Linked DNA regions of Homo sapiens: all the other regions are linked to region 1. The links come from fine-mapping of genetic effects on gene expression. A gene starts in region 1. Each other region holds a variant in brackets. All regions are shown on one strand. Distances are between the middles of the regions. Region 1 holds the start of CYBRD1 (cytochrome b reductase 1). Region 2 has its middle 21 kb from the start of CYBRD1. Region 3 has its middle 41 kb from the start of CYBRD1. Region 4 has its middle 65 kb from the start of CYBRD1. Region 5 overlaps CYBRD1 (cytochrome b reductase 1).

Region 1 (4,121 bases):
GACTGGCTCTACTCTTTGAGCAAACAAGGTGTAGACAGCTCGGGGCCAAACTTAAGGGCTCCACCACGAAGGAAAGAGTGCTTCTGACAGTTACTTTGGAACTTGAGTATGTTTTTTTCTTATAAGCATAGTGGCAAAATAACTGAGAGTTACGCAACGAAATGCCTTAGGTGCCCAGTGGTGCTCACACCCTGATGCCGATCTCACACCCTGATGCCGATCTCACACCAGGGAAGCCTTTGAATGCTGAGGGTTAGTAACACCTTCCACTACATTCCAGAGTGGGAGAATGCTGGCCACACTTGCCAAAGCTGCAGTACAAGTTTAAAACAACCAACAAAAACAAAAGCCAAAATCACTTTTCTTTAGGAATGAGGTCAGCACTCTTTTGCACACTCGTTTGTGGGGAGTTAAATATTTGGTGAAGAAAAGGCAGCCTGCCCGCAGGCAAAGCTAGAGATTTCGGCCAGTGGGCATATCTTTCCAAACCCTTGCTACTCCTCTCGATTATTTTCTGCGACATAACACCACTCCACCCCTTGCTGCCTTTCTCTAACTACTTTCTGAAGGCCGTGCCTTTGGGGAAGTGGTTACAAATAAATGGTGTTTGCGCCAAAAGCTAGAGGTTCCTCCAGCTACACGGCAAACCGAAGGAAGCAGTCAGGACATTGAGAGGCACTACACAATGACAACAAACATTGCCAGCGACTGCTGAGCCCCTCCCCCGCGCCAGCCTCAGCCCAGAGAATGCAGGCCCGGGGCTGGCTCGCCGCGGGCCAAACACGGACGCAGCTTGCGCCGGGGGCATCCCGAGCAGAGGCATCCCTCGGTGCCAGGCAGCCGCGGGCCCTCTCCGGGCATCTCCCACCCGGAGTGCTGGGCCAGTGCCCAATAGGAAGCCCCGCGGGGGAACTTTCGCCACTCTTCTGCCACATAAACAAGTCGGGCTCAAGACCGTCCAATGACTGGGCAGGGCGGCGAAACACACTTGGAAGTCCTGGCAGCTTCCCGGACTCGACTGAGTTTAACACTCTAGGAGGAGAGGAACCCAGGGCGGATGCTTCACTCGCCCCCCTTGGCCAGCCCCTTTACCCAGGGCCGAGGATGTTACAAATACGGGCAAATTCTCGCTCCGGCAATCTTTTCCCCGCTGCCTTCCCCTCCTCATCTGCAGCCTGGAAGCAAGTTCAGCAAAAGGCTGAGGCGAAAGTGTTTCCGCGCCCCCGATCGCGCAGGCTCGGTCCACAGGGGCGACTTTCCGGGGCGCGTGGGCTGCAGCGGCCCGACTGCGCGGCGCTCCGGCATCGCGCCCGGGCTCAAGTTTCTGGGTCTTGGAGGCCCCTCCAGTGCGTCCTAGCCAGTCGCCGCAAAGAGTTAACCAAGTGGGGCCGGCCCCGCTCCGCCGCCCCCAGCAGCGCGTCTCCACCGCGCACCCCCGGCCCCGCGCTCGCGGCGATCCTCCTGAACCGCAGCTCTGTCCCGCCCCAGAGCCAGCCAGCCTCCCTCCCGCCCAGCCGACTTGGCTTCCCGCGCGCTCCTCACCGCACTCCTCCGGGCCCCGCGATCCTCCAGCACTTCCTCAGCTGGAAGGGGCTTCACGGAGGACCCTCTGCCCCCGCCGTTCTCCCCGCTTTCCTCCCCGCACCCCCCCAGGAGGTGCCAGTACCGATGCCCTGGATGAAGACGAAGCCGGTGACCATGAGCACTGGGTGCCAGTTAAACTCTAGTGCGCTCCCATCCCAGCCAAGCCCCTCTCGGTAGTGGAGGACCCAGACGAGGGCGAAGATCACCGACAGGAAGCCGACGAGCAGTGCCGACCCCAGCAGCGCCAGGAAGCGCCAGTAGCCCTCCATGGCCATCAGCGCCCCATACTCCGCACCGCGGGGGCCACAAGAACTTGGAGAGGCGGCGGCAGCCCTCTGGGTAGTGGCCGGGCGGCGGGACCGGGGCGTCGACTTCTTGGGGCTGTCTCCGCCTGCGGGGAGGGACTTTCTGGGCTGCTGGCCCGGAATGTGGGGCCTCTTGGGGGTGGGGAGCTGGCCCCAACTCAGAAATGGGCCCCACCCCCGGGATCACGCGGCCGCCGAGGGCGCTCATTGCCTGGTGGCCTCACCCTCTCCCTCGTCCAGCATCCAAGCTCGCAGAGGGCTTCAGTAACAGACCTAGTTAGTTGCTCAAAGAGAAAATTCCGAGGATTTTATACTCACCACTTGCTTTTAACACTTCCCGTGTCTCGTCCTTATTTGTGGGGAGGTTGAGTAGGGCAGTGGTGCGCCCTCTTGGTTAAGAGAAGAGAGGGATCCGTTGGGTAGGGTTATGTGTGTGCTTTTAACTACTAACGAAGCCTCCTTAGCCACAGTGCTGGAGAATTGGCTGTCTCTGACATCAAAGGGTGTTAAGGAGGAACCTGTAAGGTGGTGTAAACTAAAAATAAAATCCTAAGCCCCTCACTGACTGAATGGACCTCCTTGGCCAAGCAGACCCCAGAAAAACCTTAAAGCTGAGTTTCTAGCTACAGCCGGAAGGGAAGTCTACCCCCTCCATTTTGGAATTTAGACTCAACAGCTGACTAGCATTAATGTTTAAAATAGAAATCATAAGGCGGACAGAACAGACTCTTTGTAGCAATAAGACATCAAATTATAAAAAGGACCTAAGTCACACACTCCTACACTTAAGAAATAAACTATGGTCTAACTGCCACAAAGGTTTTCTTTTCCTCTAGAGGCTAAACAAGCACTGGCTTGAGATAAGCAATATTAAAACAATTACAACTTAATCAGTTCACAGATGCTGACCAGCTGAACCCCTGTTGCACCAGCCAGAACTACAGCTTTCACTGGGCTGATTTCAGGAACTTTTTCATGATAAGAAGACCGACCATGGACCGGTTCTGGCCAGTGTACAGGGATTGTGCACTTGTATGCATTCACGTCCTGAAAAGACCTTTTGAAGTGTAGGTTTGAAGTAATACATTTAAATGTATTTGAAGTAATACAATTAAATGTTAAGTCTCCACCCCAAAGAGAACATGTTACATGCATGTTTGTTCAATATGCATGTGTAAGGACCACCTCCATTAATATTCATAGCTCCTCCTGTAACCTGTTACGTATGTATGTTTGGCCAAACTGTTCAGCATAAAGCTCCTACCCCAACCCCTCTGCCTTCCAAGTGCCTGTCTCTGGTCTTAGGCCAGAGGCTATGTTTATCAGCCTATGGAATGGCCTCCTTGCAGGCTATAACCTTTTATAAGAAATAAAGTCTCCTCTTTTTTCAAATTTATAATTTTTTGTTTTAAGTTAACAGTAAAGGCCAGGCGCAGTGCCTCACACCTGTAATCTTAGCACTTTGGGAGGCTAAGGCGGGCAGATCACTTGAGTCCAGGAGTTTGAGAACAGCCTGGGCAACAAGGTGAAACCCTGTCTCTACTGAAAATACAAATGCATGCACCTGTAGCCCCAGCTACTTGGGGGACTGAGGAAGGAGGATCACTTGAGCCCAGAAGGTCGAGGCTGCAGTGAGCTGAGGTTGCACCACTGCACTTCAGCTTGGGTGACAAAGTGAGACTCTGTCTCAAAAAAAAACAAAAAACAAAAAACAAAAAAAACCCAGTAAACCGGGTCCCCATGAGGTGTCTCACAGCTGTAATCCCAGGGCTTTGGGAGGTGGAGGCAAGAGAATCACTTGAGCTCAGGAGAGGTATGATCGCACCACTGCACTGCAGCCTGGTGACAGCTAGACTCTGTCTGGAAACAAAACAAAAACAGCATGGGCAGCGGTGGGCTTGGCCTTATCCTGCAATGAAACTACTTGCAGTTTGCTCTTGAGAGAGGGAAGACAGGAACCTCCTGGACCTGGACTTGCCGTTTAGTGTGACAAATGGATTTTCAAAGTGCCCGCCCACCCAAACCAATTTGAACCAAAGCCCCTCCTTGATGAAGTGAAGCTTGCTCCCTGCCCTCTTTCCAACATTATCCTCACCCTTCTCCACTGGACAAAAACAATGTCAGCATTATCTAATGCTATTATAAGAAAAAGGGTTCTGACTGCCAGGGCTTCCAGAATGCATTTGGGAACGTTCACTTCTAGCCCTCTTCTGTAGCTCATCTCCAAGGACT
Region 2 (4,121 bases), 21 kb after region 1:
AAATTAGCCAGGTATGGTGGCGCCTGCCTGTAGTCCCAGCTGTGTGGGAGGCTAAGGTGGGAGGATTGCTGGAGCCCAGGAGGCAGAGGTTGCGGTGAGCTGAAATGGTGCTACTACACTCCAGCATGGGTGACAAAGTGAGACCCTGTCTGAAAAATAAATAAATAAAAATAAAATAAATTGGACTTTATCCAAATTAAAAACTTTTGTACATCAAAGAACACTATCAAGAACAGTGAAAAGACAACTTACAGAATGGGAGAAGGGAGAAAATATTTGCAAATCATACATCTGATAAAGGTCTAACATCCAGAAAAAGAACTCTTAATCACTCAACAACAAAAATACAAACAATCCAATTTAAAAATGGGGAAAGGACTTGAAAAGATATTTCTCAAAGAAGATAAAAAATGGCCAAGAAGCACATGAAAAGACGATCAACATCGTTAGTCTTTAGGGAAATGCAAATCAAAACCACAATGAGATATCACTTCATACCAACTAGTATAGCTATAATTTTTTAAAGGGGAAAATAATAAGCTTTGGTAAGGATTTGAAGAAATAGAATGGCTATAACTTTTTTAAAGGGAAAATAATAAGCTTTGGTAAGGATATGAAGAAATAGAGATCCTCATACATTGCTTATGGAAATGTAAAATGGTATGGATGCTGTGGAAAAGGGTGTGACAGTTTCTCAAAAAGTTAAACATAGAATATGACCCACCAATTCCACATCTAGGAATATACCCCAAGGAATTGAAAACCGGTACCCAAAGACATACAGGTACATGCATATTCATAGAAGCACTATTCACAATACTTTAAAGGTGGAGACAACCCAGATGCCCATCAATTGATGGATAAACATATTGTGGCATACACATACCATGGAATGTTAATCAGCCCTGAAAAGGAATGAAATAGCGACACATATTACAACATGAATGAATTTTGAAAACGTTATACTAAATGAAAGAAGCCAAACACAAAAAGTCACATATTATATGAATTCATTTATATGAAATATCTAGATTAGGCAAATTCATAGAGATAGAATACAGATTAGTGGTTGCCAAGGGCTATGGGGAAGGGAGACTGGAGAGTAACTGTTTAATGACTATAAAGTTTCCTTTTGGAGTAATAAAAATGTTTTGGAACTAGATAGAGATGTTGGTTGTACAATATCATGAATATACTAAATGCCACAGCATTGTTCACTTTTAATGGTTAATTTTATGTTATGTATATTTACCTCAGTTTTAATTTTTATTGATTGATTGACTGACTGATTGATTCAGATAGGATCTTGCTCTGTTGTCCAGACTGGAGTGCAGTGGTGTGATACTATTTCACTGCAGCCTTGAACTCTCGGGCTCAAGCAATCCTCCTGCCTCAGCTGCCAGAGTAGCTGGGACTACAGGCATGCGCCACCATGCCTGACTAATTTTTTAAAACTTTTTATAGAGACAGAGTCTCGCTATGTTGCCCAGGCTGGTCTCGAACTCCTGGGCTCAACTGATTGTCCTGCCTCGGCCTCCTAAAGTGTTTGGATTATAGGCATGAGCCACTGCACCCAGCCTCACCTCAATTTTTTAAAAATTTGAATATTTGAGAAAAAATTTCTATATACTTGAGAAAGTTCTGGTATTCAGGGTATAAAAGGAATATCTACAACTCAAGATGTACACAACTCAATGTGTTGGGAATATCTACAGGAATATCTACAACTCAATGTATTGTTTCTATAAGCACAAACAACACATTTCTTAAAAAATGGCCCAGAGATTTGAACAGATACTTTACCATAAAAGATATGAGTGGCCAA[GATATGAGTGGCCAAT/T]AAGCACATAATTTTCTGTTCCTTTACGATCTTTTTCCTCCTTGTAGTTTAATGTTTTCTAATAGCCTGTCTTTCATTCACTAATCCAATCCTGCTGTTTCCAGTCTGTTGTTAAAGCCATCCAGTGAGTTCTTAATTTCACAGATTATGTGTTTCAGTTCTAGAATGTTCATCCTGTTTTTTAAAATATATTTCAATTCCATGTTGAAATTCTCCATGTTTTCATCCATCTTATCTATATTTTCCTCTAACTTAACATATTTATAACAGTTAAAGTCTTTGCTATTTCTGATATCTGGATCCTCCATTGGTCTACTTCTATTGTTAATATTTTCTCTTGGTCATTGGTCATATTTTTCTGCTTCTTTTTTTCTTTTCTTTTCTTTCTTTTTTTGAGACAGGGTCTCACTCTCTTGTCCAGCCAGTGGAGTGCAGTGGTACGGCCAGGACTCACTGCAGCCTTCACCACCCAGGCTCAAGCAGTCCTCCCACCTTAGGCTCCTAGTAGTTGGGGCTACAGGCATGTGCCACCATGCCCAGGTAATTTTTGTATTTTTTGTACAGATGAGGTTTCACTATGTTGCCCAGGCTGGTCTTAAACTCCTGGGCTCAAGTGATCTGCCTGCCTTAGCCTCCCAAAGTGCTGGGATTATAGGTGTGAGCCACCATGCCTGGACAGGTTTTCTGCTTCTTTACATGTCTTTTATTATATGACAGACCTTGTGTACAAGAGATGAAGGCTCCAACTGACATCTCTTACTAGTGGGTATTCCTCCTTTCCTCAGTTAGACAGATAGACTGAAGGACAGTCCACTCCAATCAGTGATTGAGTTGGGTCAGGGCTTTTAATTGAGAGTTTGTAAAGTCCTGATTTTACAAGTCCTAATTGAGTCCTCAGCCCTGAAAACATGAAGTCCTGTGCTTTCGAGGTGTGAGCTTAGCTCTTTGGCCTCCATTGTTATGGGCCGAATTGTGTCCCTCACAAATTCATATGTTGAGGTCCTAACCCCCAATACCTCACAATGTGATTATATTTGGAGATGGGGTCTTTAAAGAGGCAATTAAGTTTAACTGGGCTCATTAGGCCGGGCGTGGTGGCTCACCCTGTAATCTCAGCACTTTGGGAGGCCAAGGTGGGTGGATCACCTGAGGTCAAGAGTTTGAGACCAGCCTGGTGAAACCCTGTCTCTACTAAAAATACAGAAATTAGCTGGATGTGGTGCCTATAGTCCCAGCTACTCAGGAGGCTGAGACAGGAAAATTGCTTGAACCTGGGAGGTGGAAGTTGCAGTGAGCCGAGATCGCGCCACTGCACTCCAGCCTGGGCCACAGAGCGAGACTTCATCTCAAAAAAAGATAATAAAATAAAAAAATTAAAAGGCGGGGGGTTCATTAGGGTGGGTAGTGGGTAATGTGACTATGTCCTTATAAGAAGAGGAGATTGGGACATAGACACACACATACAGGAAAGACCATGTGAGGACACAGGGAGGATACTGTTATCTACAAGCCAAAGAAAGAGGCCTCAGAAAAAACAACCCAATTGACATCTTTTTCTCCCCTCATTGGTCCATTGGGAGAAGACTAATTGACATCTTGATCTCCAGCTTCTAGCCTCCAGAAATGTGACAGTATAAATTTCTGTCTTTTAAGCTTTGTAGTCTGTGGTACTTTGTTATGGCATTCCTAGCAAACTAATACTGTGTCAGTCCATTTTTTTGTTTGTTGCTATAAAGGAATACCTGAGGCTGGGTAATTTATAAAGAAAAGTTTATTTGTCTCACAATTCTTCAGGCTGAACAAGCATGTCACCAGCATGAGTGACAGACTAGTTGTGAATTTGTGAAAGACTCCTTTCCCTTCGTAGAATTTTTTTCCCTAAGCAGAACAAGACAATGGGAGAGTTCAGTTTGCCTTTTTGGCCCAGCTCCCAGCCTCACAGATCACCCTAAAACTCAGAAAATGTCTCACGGGAAACTAGCCTTGCATTTGGGCTCTTCCAGTTTCTTATAGGTCACAACAGCCCTGTGCGACTGTCAAAAGTTCTACTGGTTTCTCCTTCTTCTACTAGCGTCTTTCTGCCTGGGGGTCAGGCCCACAGGTGAAGAAAACAAAGACAATTGTTAGTTCACCTAGAGAGGGTTCTTACCCTTCTAGAATTTCAGTTCATCTATTCCTCCTTGTTCCAAAACTCTCTAATATCTTTAAAAGTATAATTTTGCAATTTATCCATTTTATTTTCTGATTGTTGCAGCAAAAACATTAGACTACCTCAAATTAA
Region 3 (4,121 bases), 41 kb before region 1:
AAGGTATTTAAAACACCATGTTTGGGAATTTACCACCGTGATCTGTAATTTCTCTTATTGCTTTTTGCTCAGGGTTTCATCCCTCCTCCCTGCCCTCCAAGCTAATCTGGGCCAAGTGGATTCTGTTCTGACCCATCTCTAACTCTTTACTCAGTCTATTCCTTACCCTATTTTGCCTTTTTTTCTTTTCTTTTTTTTTTTTTTTTTTTGACATAGAGTTTCACTCTGTTGCCCAGGCTTAAGTGCAGTGGCACAATATCAGCTCACAGCAACCTTCGCTTCCTGCCTCCCGGGTTTAAGCGATTCTCCTGCCTCAGCTTACGGAGTAGGTGAAATTAAAGGTGTGTGCCACCACACCTGGCTAATTTTTTGTATTTTTAATAGAGACTGGGTTTTGTTATGTTGGCCAGGCTGGTCTTGAACTCCTGGCCTCAAGTGGTCGGCCCGCCTCAGCCTCCCAAAGTGCTGGGATTATATCTGTGAGCCACTGTGTCTGGTCCCATTTTTGCCTCTTTTGTCACTTTTACAAAGCCTACTAACTGTCTCTCTTTTTTGGAGCCCTCGATACCTAGATTACAAAGGTTTATTCCAGTTGTAAGCCATGAGAATTGTAGGTAATTCTGTGCTGAAGGATGGAAATGGTGTATGAATTAAACTGGCTGCAATAGTCTATAAAATAACAGATTCATAGCTTTCAGCATGAGCCCCAGGCAGTGCCTAGGAGCAGTGCACACAAGACATCCTCAATCACTAATTGGTGAGTGAATATAAAAGGACCTGTTTTTTGTAGCAGATGGAGAGATTAAGCGGCTTGCCCAAGATTACACCCGTGGACCATGATAGAGTTCCTACAAGAATCCAGATTTTTCTGTTTTGTCCAGTTCTTACAAGTATATACTGCCCAGCTTCCAGTGATTGCATGACCTTCGGAAGACTTGTAAATGTTTATGTCTCTGCGATCTGGAGATTAACAATGCTGCAAAGCAAATAGTCCCTCAGGCCATTCCGGTATCTGACCAAGTTAGGATCTTGGCAAATGCTTTAGTTCCTCTTTCCTGGTGTTAGGAAAACATTTATTTCAATTATAAATATATTATCTTCAATTTCTTGATAAATTAGACTAAGCAAACATTTGGATGATGTCAATGAGGCAGACGGGATTCCGATAATACATGTTTTTCTTAGTACAAAAGTGATACTTAATTATAGAAAATACAGAGAAAACAAAAAGAAGAAAATGAAAAATGCCCATTATCCTACCATGTCTCAAAGATAACCATTTTTTAACATTATTTTATTTTATTTTACTTTATTTTTTGAGACAGAGTCTTGCTCTGTCACCCAGGGTGGAGTGCAGTGGTGCGATCTCGGCTCACTGCAAGCTCTGCCTCCCAGGTTCAAGTGATTCTCCTGCCTCAGCCTCCCAAGTAGCTGGGATTACAGGCCCGCACCACCACATCTGTCTTTTTTTTTTTCCTTTGTACTTTTAGTAGAGACAGGGTTTCACCATGTTGGCCAGGCTGGTCTCTGACCTTAGGTGATCCACCCACCGTGGCCTCCCAAAGTGCTGGGATGACAGGCATGAGCCACCACACCAGGCCAAAGATAACCATTATTAACTAATTAACTATTTGGTATATTATGCCTCCAGTTATTTGAAAGTGTATGCACATTCACATTTACAAACTCTTTTATATTCAATTTCTTTCACTTAATATTTTATGAACATATTTTCATATTGCTAATTATTCACTTGAACAATATAATTTTTGATGACATAGTTTTTGTATAGTGTAACTTTGTATTTGGCCATTCTTTATTAGACATTGTTTCCAAATACAAGAAATCTTTAAGATGATTTGCCACACAGATACAATCACTACAGTGGTGATTCTCAGTCTCTACTTGCACTCCATTCGCAATCCAGTGCTCTGTTAAATGAGACAGAGACAGAGAGAGAGAGAGAGAGAG[T/AGT]GAGAGGTTGAGAGAGAGAGAATGGAGGAAGGCTAGGCAAGGAGAGGCCTGAATCCTAATCATCACTCCACACTTTTCCACACCCTTGAGTTTTATTTGCACTTTTGCTTGCTCTTGGGGTGAATTAGCTCACACTTAAGGCTGTCACTGCTCCTCTTGCCTCACACCCTTTTACTTCCTTCATTTGAGTGTTCCAGGTGAGTTCACTGGGCCAGAACCTCCTACAATCTGCTCAAGACCTAGAGGTTTGAATGGGGAATGTGAGCGCTGATAGAGACAGGGAGCCAGGTCGTGGGTTGGGGAGGGCAAGGATGCTTCCTGCCCTCCTCCTTCATCACTAGTGGCTACTCTAGGGCCTGCCTGTGTGTGCCAGGGCTGAGCTAGGGCCTGGCCCCCTGGAGTTCTACAGAGTCCCTCTGGTACCTGAGCCACAAGAGAGGCACCTGTTCAGGAAATCTCATCAGAATCTAAACTTTAAGAGGAATCTCAGAACTTATCCATTTCAACATTCACCCAATGCTTATATTTCTCTTTTTCACCTTCATTCCACAAGAGAGAAATTTGTGACATGTCTCAGTCTAGCCTTAATGTGATAAGATTCATATAAATAGATATGAGAATATAGAAAACATTTATTTGGACTAGACTTCAGACTAAATTTCTGCCATAACATTCACCAAACTAAGGGATTGCTTATGTACAGTTCTGACCCTGAGGCTGACAACCAGATATTCTTCCCGTTGAAACAGAAAAACTCATACTATTCCACTCAGCCTAGAAATTTCCTAGTTATGTACCAGTAGATATTATACCAACCAGATTGCCAACTGTATTTGAAAGTCAATCAGAAAGCTTCTCCTTCCAAAATTCTCACCCTAATAGAACACTCACCAGCCAAATCCTGCATGAGCCGTCTTCCTTTCACTCTATAAACCTCACTCGCCTATCACGCCCCTTGAGTGGCTACCAGAAGGAAAGTGATCATAGCTAACTCACTCTAGTCAGATCTGAAAAAACAGGTTTCAGATAATTCTATAGACATTGTCTTTTTGACAAAACAAAAATGTATTCTTATGGATTGGTGATATAAATGAGCACTGCCCTGTGGGCTACCTCTGACATGAACAAAGGTCGGCAGACATGTGCTCCTGGACCGCTCCCGTATCGAGCATCCTCACCCACCCAAATTGGCCTGTCCTTAGAATGGCTGGCCTTACGGGTTGTGCCTCTGTAGTGAGTGAGGGGAACCCTTTTCAGTTTGTGCTCCCCACTCCTCTATTCTAGCTCCCTGAAGCCTGCATCCTATGAAGATGTATTCTCTTGGTTCCAAGACAGTTCTTCATACAGCCGATAATCATGGAAGAAAGTCCACATTCCTTTAAGAAGAGATGTGGACCCGGGGAATAAATGGTAAGGAGTTGTTTGAAATGCTTGTTCCCAGGTGCTGTAAAGAAATAGTACTTGAACATAAATTTAATTTATTTAGTAAGGCCATTTTTACTTCCTGCAGAAAGAGTACACTCACCAGAAGTTTTGCCCTTGGTGAGAAATGTATCCAGCCTATACCGGCTTATCCTCATTCCAAAACACTAAAGCAACTAACAGGGTTCCTTGGCATAACAGGCTTCTGCCGAATATGGATTCCCAGGTACGGCGAAATAGCCAGGTCATTATATACACTAATTAAGAAAACTCAGAAAGCCAATACCCATTTAGTAAGATGGACACCTGAAGCAGAAGTGGTTTTCCAGGCCCTAAAGGCCCTAACCAAGCCCCAGTGTTAAGCTTGCCAACAGGGCAAGACTTTTCCTTATATGCAACAGAAAAAAACAGGAATAGCTCTAGGAGTCCTTACACAGGTCCGAGGGACCAGCTTGCAACCCATGGCATACTTGAGTAAGGAAACTGATGCAGTGACAACGGGTTGGCCTCATTTTTTACTGGTAGTGGCAGCAGTAGCAGTCTTAGTATCTGAAGCAGTTAAAATGATACAGGGAAGAGATCTCACTGTGTGGAGACTTGTGGCTGTCAGACAACCATTTGCTTAAACATCAGGCTCTATTACTTGAGGGACCAGTGCTGCGACTGCACACTTGTGCAACTCTTAATCCAGCCACATTTCTTCCAGGCAATGAAGAAAAAAATAGAAC
Region 4 (4,121 bases), 65 kb before region 1:
CCATGGATCTATCTCTGAACTTATATCACAGTCTTAATTATGATGATTTTATATCAATTCTTAATACCTGGTAGTAGTGTAATTACTGACACTTGTTCTTCTTCAGGATTATTTTGGCTATCTTTGGCCCTTTGCTTTGCTATATAAAATATATAAATTTTAGGGTCAGCTTGTCAAGTTCTGTGAATAGAAAGTCATTAAATCTACAGCTTATTTTAGGGAAATACTATTTGTATCTTCTTTTTGTCTTTTACTGAAGTTTTTATTATTTTTTTCTGTAAAAGCCTTCACATTTTTGTTAGATTTACTCCAAAGGTGTCTTTTTTTTAATTGCCGTTGTAATTGGCATCTTTAATTGTGTGTTCTAAATATTTGTTGCTGAAGTATACATGTGTAATTGTATTTTGTATATTGACCTTACTTAAGGCAGACTTGCTAAGCTCCTATGAAGTCTAATGGCTTTTTGATGGAGTTTTTGAGTTTCCTAGCAAGATATTCACAAGTAGGAATAGTTTGTTTCTTTCAGGTCCTCATACCTTTTATTCCTCTTTCCCATTTTAAGGGCAAGCTAGATCACCTAGTACAATGTTACAGAAGTGGTGAGAACAGTCATCTTTACCGTGTTCTTAGTTTTAAAGAAAATGCTTTTTAAGGTCTCACCATTAAGTGTGATATGTGCTGTTAGATTTTTGCAACTTCCCTTTATCATGTTAGATAGTTTCCTTTTAGCCTTCATTTACTAAGAATTTTTAAAATCATTGATGACTAGATTTAATCAATTGCTGTTTTTTGTATCTATTGAGCTAATAATATTTTTTCATTAATCTGATAATGTGGTAAATTACTCTAATGTGAAATTAAGCTTTTATTGTAGGAATAAACTATCTTGGTCACAATAGATTAACTTCTTTATACATTGCTGATTTGATTTGCTAAATTTTTAAAAGGATTTTCAAATAAATTACACTGGCTTGAACGTTTCTTTTCCAGGTCTTTATCTGGTTTTAGTATCAAAATTACACTAGCCTTATATAATGAGTTGGATGCTCATCTCTCTTTTTCTATTCTCTGCAAGACTTCACATATGATTGCACTGATCTCTTGAATGTTTGGTTGTGCTTACCTTTTGAACTAACTAGGCCTGGTGTTTTCTCTGTTGGAAAAATTATAGCTAGTAATTAAATATATTTAGTGATAATAGCAGAGCTGTCTTTTTTTATAAATTATTTTATTTCTTCCAAAATTCTTTTTTTTTTTTTTTTTTTTTTTTTTTTTGAGATAGAGTTTTGCTCTGTCACCTAGGCTGGAGTCCAGTGGTGTGATCTCAGCTCACTGCAACTTCCACCTCTCGGGTTCAAGCAATTCTCATGCCTCAGCCTCACAGTAGCTGAGATTACACGCATGTGCCACCACGCCCAGCTAATTTTTATATTTTTAGTAGAGACAGGGCTTTGCCATGCTGGCCAGGCTGGTCTCAAACTCCTGGCCTCAAGTGATCCGCCCTCCTGGGCTTCCCAAAGAGCTGGGATTTCAGGTGCGACCCACTACGCCCAGCCCCATGATGATTTAGAGGGACTATCTTCAAACCAGTACAAACAGTTCATAAATAACATCTGCCCGTTTTCTAACCAATTGAGTAATTTGTTGCACAATAAGCTACCTCACATCTTTCAG[C/G]AAGAAAAACTTTAAATTAGAATAGTAAAGATATTACACAATGAATTAGGACACAATTAAAATTTGCTTTAAATGTATCTTTGTGGGAGATGACACCACACTTCTACTCAATGAAGAGAAACATTTTTACAGTCCAGAGGTCTTTGATATTTTAAACATCTATTAAGCCATGAATTCATAGGGAATAGGTTCCAGCAGCTCAGGCTTCTTCCCGCTGGTTCTCACAAAGTGTGTTTCTCTGGGTGGAGCAGGCTGGCACTTCAGCTGAACCCGGGTAGCTTTCTCTTTGGCTTCCTTCTTTTTCTGATCATTTTCCTTCATGTGTTTCAGGAAACTATCAGGGATCTTAGAATGTTTAACATGCTCAATATGCACATTAATTTTCTTGGCAAGAATCTTGCCCTTAGCTTGTTTGTTTATAACAATGCCAACAGCACGCTGGGGAACACTGTAGACTCTCCCAGTTTTGCCATGGTTAACATTTGTGGGGCATTCCTTTTTGAACAGTATCCATTTTCTTGATGTCTACAATATCACCTTTCTCATAGATTCACATATACGTGGCCAAAGGAAAAACCCCATGTTTTCTAAAAGGCCTAGAGAACATATATCTGGTGCCTCTCCTCTTTTCCCGTGTTCATCATTTTGGCGAATTACTGGAAGACGGAGGTTCCAGCCAAAAGGCAATAGCAGAGCTTTCTATCTGGTGTGTTCTGAGTGGGCCTCAGAGATTTTAAACACTCAGCCCTGAAGAGGCCAAGTCAGATGGGTGAGAAGTGGATGTGGGGCTGCTGGAGGCCCTGGCCAAGTTGCCTCTGGTCATAAGCATTCTGATCTCTCTTTTTTGTTGTTTTTGAGTATGATCTCACTCTGTCACCCAGGCTAGAGTAAACAGTGGTGCCAATGTGGCTTACTGCAGCCTCAACCTTCCATGCTCAAGCGATCCTCCCACCTCGGCCTCCCAAAGTGCTGGGATTACTGGCATGCATCACCATGCCCAGCCCTATTTCCATGTCTTTACCCTACTGTGCCATTGAGGTATTTTGCCATTGAGGTACTGGGGAGACAAAATAACCTCCAGTCAAGAATCACTACTCCAGGGCCTGAAATCCTGTCTTTAAACTTCTGCCTGATGCCCAGAGTCCTGGTATCTGCTGACAAAACCTCCTAATACCAAACACAAGGCAATTTCTCCAAATATAGCTTATTCCTGGCGTTCCCATGGCCATGCCCCGCTGTCTTGGGAAGATGCTGCTGTAATTCTCACAGCCTCTTTCTCATGCCAACAGCTTGGCTGGACTGTCGATTGCTCTTTAGGGAGATACCATTTTCTCTGACTTGAGCAAGTGACCCTTTATCCCCCATAAGAAGATTTCCTATGGGGATGGGGTGGGGCTGGTTTCGGTCTTTGGATCTGTCCTGTTGAGATCCAGTTAGTTCTTCCAAGAGTGGCTGTGTCATGAGACATCACAGCGAGAATGTGTTTGTTTTCCTTGAGAAAGTAATCTTTCCAGTGGTTTTATGTGAGAGAGCCTGTCCTTTTCCTATGGAAGAAGACATGGAGTTTTCTGAAGGGGATAAATTGCCCCATTTGACTGTGTAACAAGTCAGTTGGGAATGAGCAGCAGAACCACAGAATTGCAGCCTTAATAGATGCCAGCAGTACAAAGGTGGTGGTGAGCTTAATAAGAGCCTTAGAGAGAGGGGGAGAGAGTGACTGATTGACTGAAAGCTTAGAGCAGAGAACAGAAGGAGGGAAAAAACATTGTGTAATGCTTTTCATAGAGAAAATAGTCTAAGAACCACAGGGTGGGGAGCAAGAGAAAAAGTGTAGAACAAATTGTACCTTGCACTATCCTAAACTTGGCCTAGTTAATTACAGTGGGATAGGCGGTGCCAAGAGGGCCCAGAGCCTGAGACAGATATGACATTGGGTGGAAATCCACTCAAGCATGTAAGAAATGGTATCCATGGCTTTAACATGTGAGAAGATTATTCCTCTCATGGGAAAACATGGCGGCTTTCTTTTGCTAGGTAGTCAAGGGCTTAGGTTTCTTCTCTCTTGTTCTGTGATGTGTTGGATGCTGCCTTTATCTTCATGAACAAGATGACCCACTCCCACTCCCATATTCCTGCTGGCAGAAAAAGCGAAAGAAGAGAATCATATCCCTTCATCTTAAAGGCATAACCCAGAAGTTATACACATTATTTTGACTTGCATTCCATTGGCCAAAACCTAGTCATCTGGCTAATATGGTCACACCTAGCTGCAAAGGAAGCTGGAGATTCTGGGAGGCCATGTGCTCAGATAAAAGCAGGGGTTTTCTCTGAGAAATTTCTCTACCACCACTAACCTGAGTGCTTCTTGTCCTCAATCTTCTTCCCTTTCCTCCAAATTCAATTTCCTAAAAGTCCAGAGAACACATCTGGCAGACCCATCCTCAGAA
Region 5 (4,121 bases), 30 kb before region 1:
GCTTTCTACAACCAATCAAACTGACTGCAGGCCACCACTTCATTTACATGCAGTGAACACCAACTGGCCAATGGGAAACCTCTAGGGGCTATTTGGACCCAAGAAGATTCCCTATCGGGCCGTTGAGTGGCTGCTCAGGCCACTCCCGCCCTGTGGAGTGTACTTTCATTTTCAGTAACTCTCTGCTTTTGTTGCTTCATTCTTTACTTGCTTTGTTTGTGTGTTTTGTCCACTTCTTTGTTCAAAACGCCAAGAACCTGGACACCCTCCACCAGTAACAGTTATCACTTAAAATTTTTAAAAAGGATGAAACAAAAATGTATGTACACTATAATTACAATTAATATAAAAACATGCATATCAACAAGATTGAAAGGGAATGTATAACTTCAATAGTTGTTTCATAAGAGTAATACAATTTGTCAGACTTTTTGGTCCTTCTAAACTTTTAGTAATATCATATTACCTATATGATATAACAAATTCTTTAAAATATTTTTTAATTTTAATATCTAAAAAATTTTGTTATATTTTTATTACATTTTCCCAGTGAACAAGTATTTAACATTTTGTGGCTTAAGTATTACAATTAAGAAGACTATGCAACTTACAGGGAAAAAATCAGTTTCTCTGTCAATCCCATAAGTGCTGTTGCAATCACTGTTCCAAAGATGACAATTCCAGAATAAACATGTATGGGCATGAGAAATGCTCGGAGAGAAAGCGGAGCCCATGGAAGCAGAAAGACTGAAAAACCTGAAAGAAGCTAAACACCAAAAAGTGCAAAGGTTATCATTTAATTTTAAGTTCTAAACTAATTTTAAATTATTTAAAAAGCAATATGTGTAATATGACAAAACCTTTCATATAGAACCAAAGGGTAGAAAATGAAGTTTCCTCGCTCCAGTTCCACTACCTAATGTAACCCCTTTTATCACCTTCTCATGGATCATTCCAGAAAATTTATTATCCCTATACATATTGTTCTGCATCTTGCTTTTTTCCCTTAACAGAATATCTTGGAAATCTTTTTCATACCTATACATTTACCTAATTTATTCCTTTTAATGGCTAATATCCTAAGGCTATAACAATTTATTTATACAGTTCTCTATGGATGTTTCTGTTTGGTTTTTGCTATCCTTAATCCGACTATAGTGAACATTCTGGTACTTACTTGTTTGTTTTTACCAATCTCCTAAGGTTGCTAAGTAGGAAGGGAAGGAAAAGATTTTTTAAATCACTAAAACCGAGTACATTAGGACACAGAATTTAGTCAGTTCAACCTAAAAAGCTATGTGGAATGAAGTTGATTTTTGTTTTATGAGAAAGAAATGAATTCTGCAGAAAAGGTGTCTTCATTTCCTTGATAATGAAATCGCTAGTGGGATACCTCTTTGCAGAGAAGACAGCAAGGTTCCTATATAAACTGAAGTCTGTTGCGCTTTCACGGTTTTGTCACCCCACACGTTTGCCCATCAAGTATCCTCTCTTCAACAAGATAAAGATGACTTTGTGGTTACTGAATTACTGAGTTTAAAGGAACATTTTTTTTCAGATGCCTATTTAGGATCTACCATCCTAGCAAAACAATTATGAAAAGAGAGGAGAGTGGGGAGAAAGCACTAACATCACTGTTCAGCTTTCTTGATTGAGATCCAAGGGCTAATGGGGAGACAGAAGAAGGGAGGCAGGGGGAGGGGTCCAACGCCCTAATTCACACTGAGAATCAGCTCATGTGTAATACCAAGTAGTAATAAATGGAAACTGATAACAAAACAATTTGTATGATTTGTCACTTTAACAGACTGCAGAGGAAAAATCATATAATCATCAAAACAGATGGTGAAAAACATTGGTAGGATTCA[A/G]CAGTCATGTATGAGATGTTTTAACAAACTAGGAATGGAAGATGATTATTTTAATCTGATTATATTAGGACAGAACATGCTATAGGAACTAACAGGCTCCATTTTCAAGAGCTTAACATATAAAAGTATATTTCTTGCTCACACACAGTCTGCTTATGGTCTATAGGCATTTCAGAGTAGCTCTCTTCCAAGACATGACTCAGATCTAGAAGGGATTTGTCTTATATCCCTTATCACCTATTCCTATTCAGCATTTTTCTGAAAGTCTCAGCTACTGAGTTAAGCAAGAAAAAAAAATGATGATAGAAAAAGAAACAAAACTTATTAATCACATAAGATTATAAAACACAATCCAAAAGAATCTTGAGATTAATTACTAACATAAGTTTATCAAGTTTGCTAGGTATAAATTTATACTTGAGATCAGTTGCACTTTTTGTAAAGAGGCAACAAGTGAATTAATTTTTAATGATACCATTTTTAATAGCAAGGAGCTAGCAATAAGTTGGAGACAACAACTCTACAAAGAAAATATAAAGCTTTGCAATATTTTGGAGAAGGCTAAAAAAACAGGCTCAGGATAATGAGTTGGAAGACTTGTATTATACAGATGTCGGTTCTCAAATTCATCTATAGATTAAATAAAATCCTAATAGATTTTTGGTGGAATTTGATGCATTGATTCTAAAATTTACATAGATCAAAGGGCCAAGAATAGCCAAGATTAACTGTTGTTTTCTGAAGTATATCCTAATACAATAAATTCTGTAATTTATATTTAAAAAGTAATAACAAATGCATTTGATAGGTTGGTTTGCATATTTTATTATTTAGTTAATAACCAAAATGCCTGAATATATTAGAAATGGTTCAGAGGGTTCCCTCTTGGTGGTTCAGAATATTCCTAAATCTTCTTCAGTGAACTTCAGTGATTCTATTAGTATCAAAGGGCAAGCTTCCTGATGTCCATGTTGTGCTTTCTATATGAAAATGGGGGCTGAGTGTGGTGCCTCACGCCTGTAATCCCAGCACTTTGGGAGGCCAAGGTGGGAAGATCACTTGAGTCCAGGAGTTCAAGACAAGCCCGGGCAACATGGCGAAACCCCATCTCTACAAAAAATTAGCTGGGCATGGTGGTGCACGTCTGTGGTCCCAGCTACTGTGGATGCTGAGGCAGGAGGATTGCTTGAGTCCTGGAGATGGAGGTTGCAGTGAGCTGAGATTGTGCCATTGCACTCCAGCCTGGGTGACAGAGTGAGACCCTGTCTAAGAAAGAAAAAAGAAAAGAAAGGAAAAGAAAATGGGGCTCAGGGATATAGCACAAATATATCTCCATAAATCATCATATCTTTTCTGTGGCTTACCCATAGAAACATATATTTCTCATTCCTGCTCTCCTATTTTCATTCCTAAGATTCTTTCTGTTTTCTCTCATTTCCTCCATAATTTGTCATGTGTGTCTCTTACAATCCTGTAGGGCTCAACAGTCTAAGCAGGTAGGAGGTCAGAAATTTGCTTACAGGATCCCTGAGCAACTTAACTACCCTAAATCTGACTTTCACCATTAAACATTTTTTGCAACAAAAGAAAATTACATTTAAAAGGAAAAGAAAAACATTACAGAATGCTTAACTTTGATTAAAAGTGTTCTGAATGCTGCAATAATGCATATTTATAATTTATAATAACTTATAATTTATAAATAATCATTATTTCCTTTTAACTATCTTAATCTTACTACCTTACAAGTGAAGGTGATAATTTATAACCTAGTGGACCGAAAATTATAAGACCTTTTGTCTCTCTAAGTCAGTACTGGAAGTGCTGTTCACAGAAGGCATGCATTTAAAGGGATGCCTGCTGTAATCCCAGCACTTTGGGAGGCCGAGGCAGGAGGATCACTTGAGATCAGGATTTTAAGACCAGCCTGGCCAACATGTCAAAACCCCATCTCTACTAAAAATACAAAAACTAGCCAGGCATGGTGGCACATGCCTGTAGTCCCAGCTACTCTGGAGGCTGAAGCAAGAGAATTGCTTGAACCCGGATGGCGGAGGTTGCAGTGAGCTGACATTGTGCACTTCAGCCTGGGTGACAGAGCAAAGCTCTGTCTCAAGAACAAAAACAACAACAACAAAAAAATAAAAAATAAAAAGATGCCTGGGCCACATTCTGACCTGCTAAATCCAATTTCTGGATTAGGGCCCAGGAATCTGTATTTTTAACAAACTGCCCAGACGATTCTTACGTATG

Evidence for each region. PIP is the estimated chance that this variant, and not a neighbour inherited with it, causes the effect.
Region 2: its variant is the best candidate, but not a certain one, in a credible set for the expression of CYBRD1 in whole blood (INTERVAL, PIP 0.84).
Region 3: its variant is the best candidate, but not a certain one, in a credible set for the expression of CYBRD1 in monocytes (Fairfax 2014, PIP 0.82).
Region 4: its variant is the best candidate, but not a certain one, in a credible set for the expression of CYBRD1 in whole blood (TOPMed, PIP 0.70).
Region 5: its variant is the best candidate, but not a certain one, in a credible set for the expression of CYBRD1 in blood mononuclear cells (TOPMed, PIP 0.73).

The regions. Positions count from the first base shown.
Region 1 is chr2:171,520,284-171,524,404 of GRCh38, reverse strand. It overlaps CYBRD1 (cytochrome b reductase 1), which reads right to left and starts at 1,931. Exons shown (of 4, transcript NM_024843.4): 1 at 1,667-1,931. The coding sequence starts at 1,859. RefSeq lists silencers at 1,293-1,362, 1,513-1,622 and an enhancer at 1,733-1,842.
Region 2 is chr2:171,499,133-171,503,253 of GRCh38, reverse strand. No RefSeq gene overlaps it. Among named protein-coding and RNA genes, the nearest start is that of CYBRD1, 21 kb to the left of the region's middle. The variant GATATGAGTGGCCAAT/T (reference allele first, on the strand shown) is at 1,826.
Region 3 is chr2:171,561,496-171,565,616 of GRCh38, reverse strand. No RefSeq gene overlaps it. Among named protein-coding and RNA genes, the nearest start is that of CYBRD1, 41 kb to the right of the region's middle. The variant T/AGT (reference allele first, on the strand shown) is at 1,972.
Region 4 is chr2:171,585,290-171,589,410 of GRCh38, reverse strand. It overlaps the pseudogene RPL21P38. Among named protein-coding and RNA genes, the nearest start is that of CYBRD1, 65 kb to the right of the region's middle. The variant C/G (reference allele first, on the strand shown) is at 1,675.
Region 5 is chr2:171,549,991-171,554,111 of GRCh38, reverse strand. It overlaps CYBRD1 (cytochrome b reductase 1), which reads right to left. Exons shown (of 4, transcript NM_024843.4): 3 at 612-766. Among named protein-coding and RNA genes, the nearest start is that of CYBRD1, 30 kb to the right of the region's middle. The variant A/G (reference allele first, on the strand shown) is at 1,869.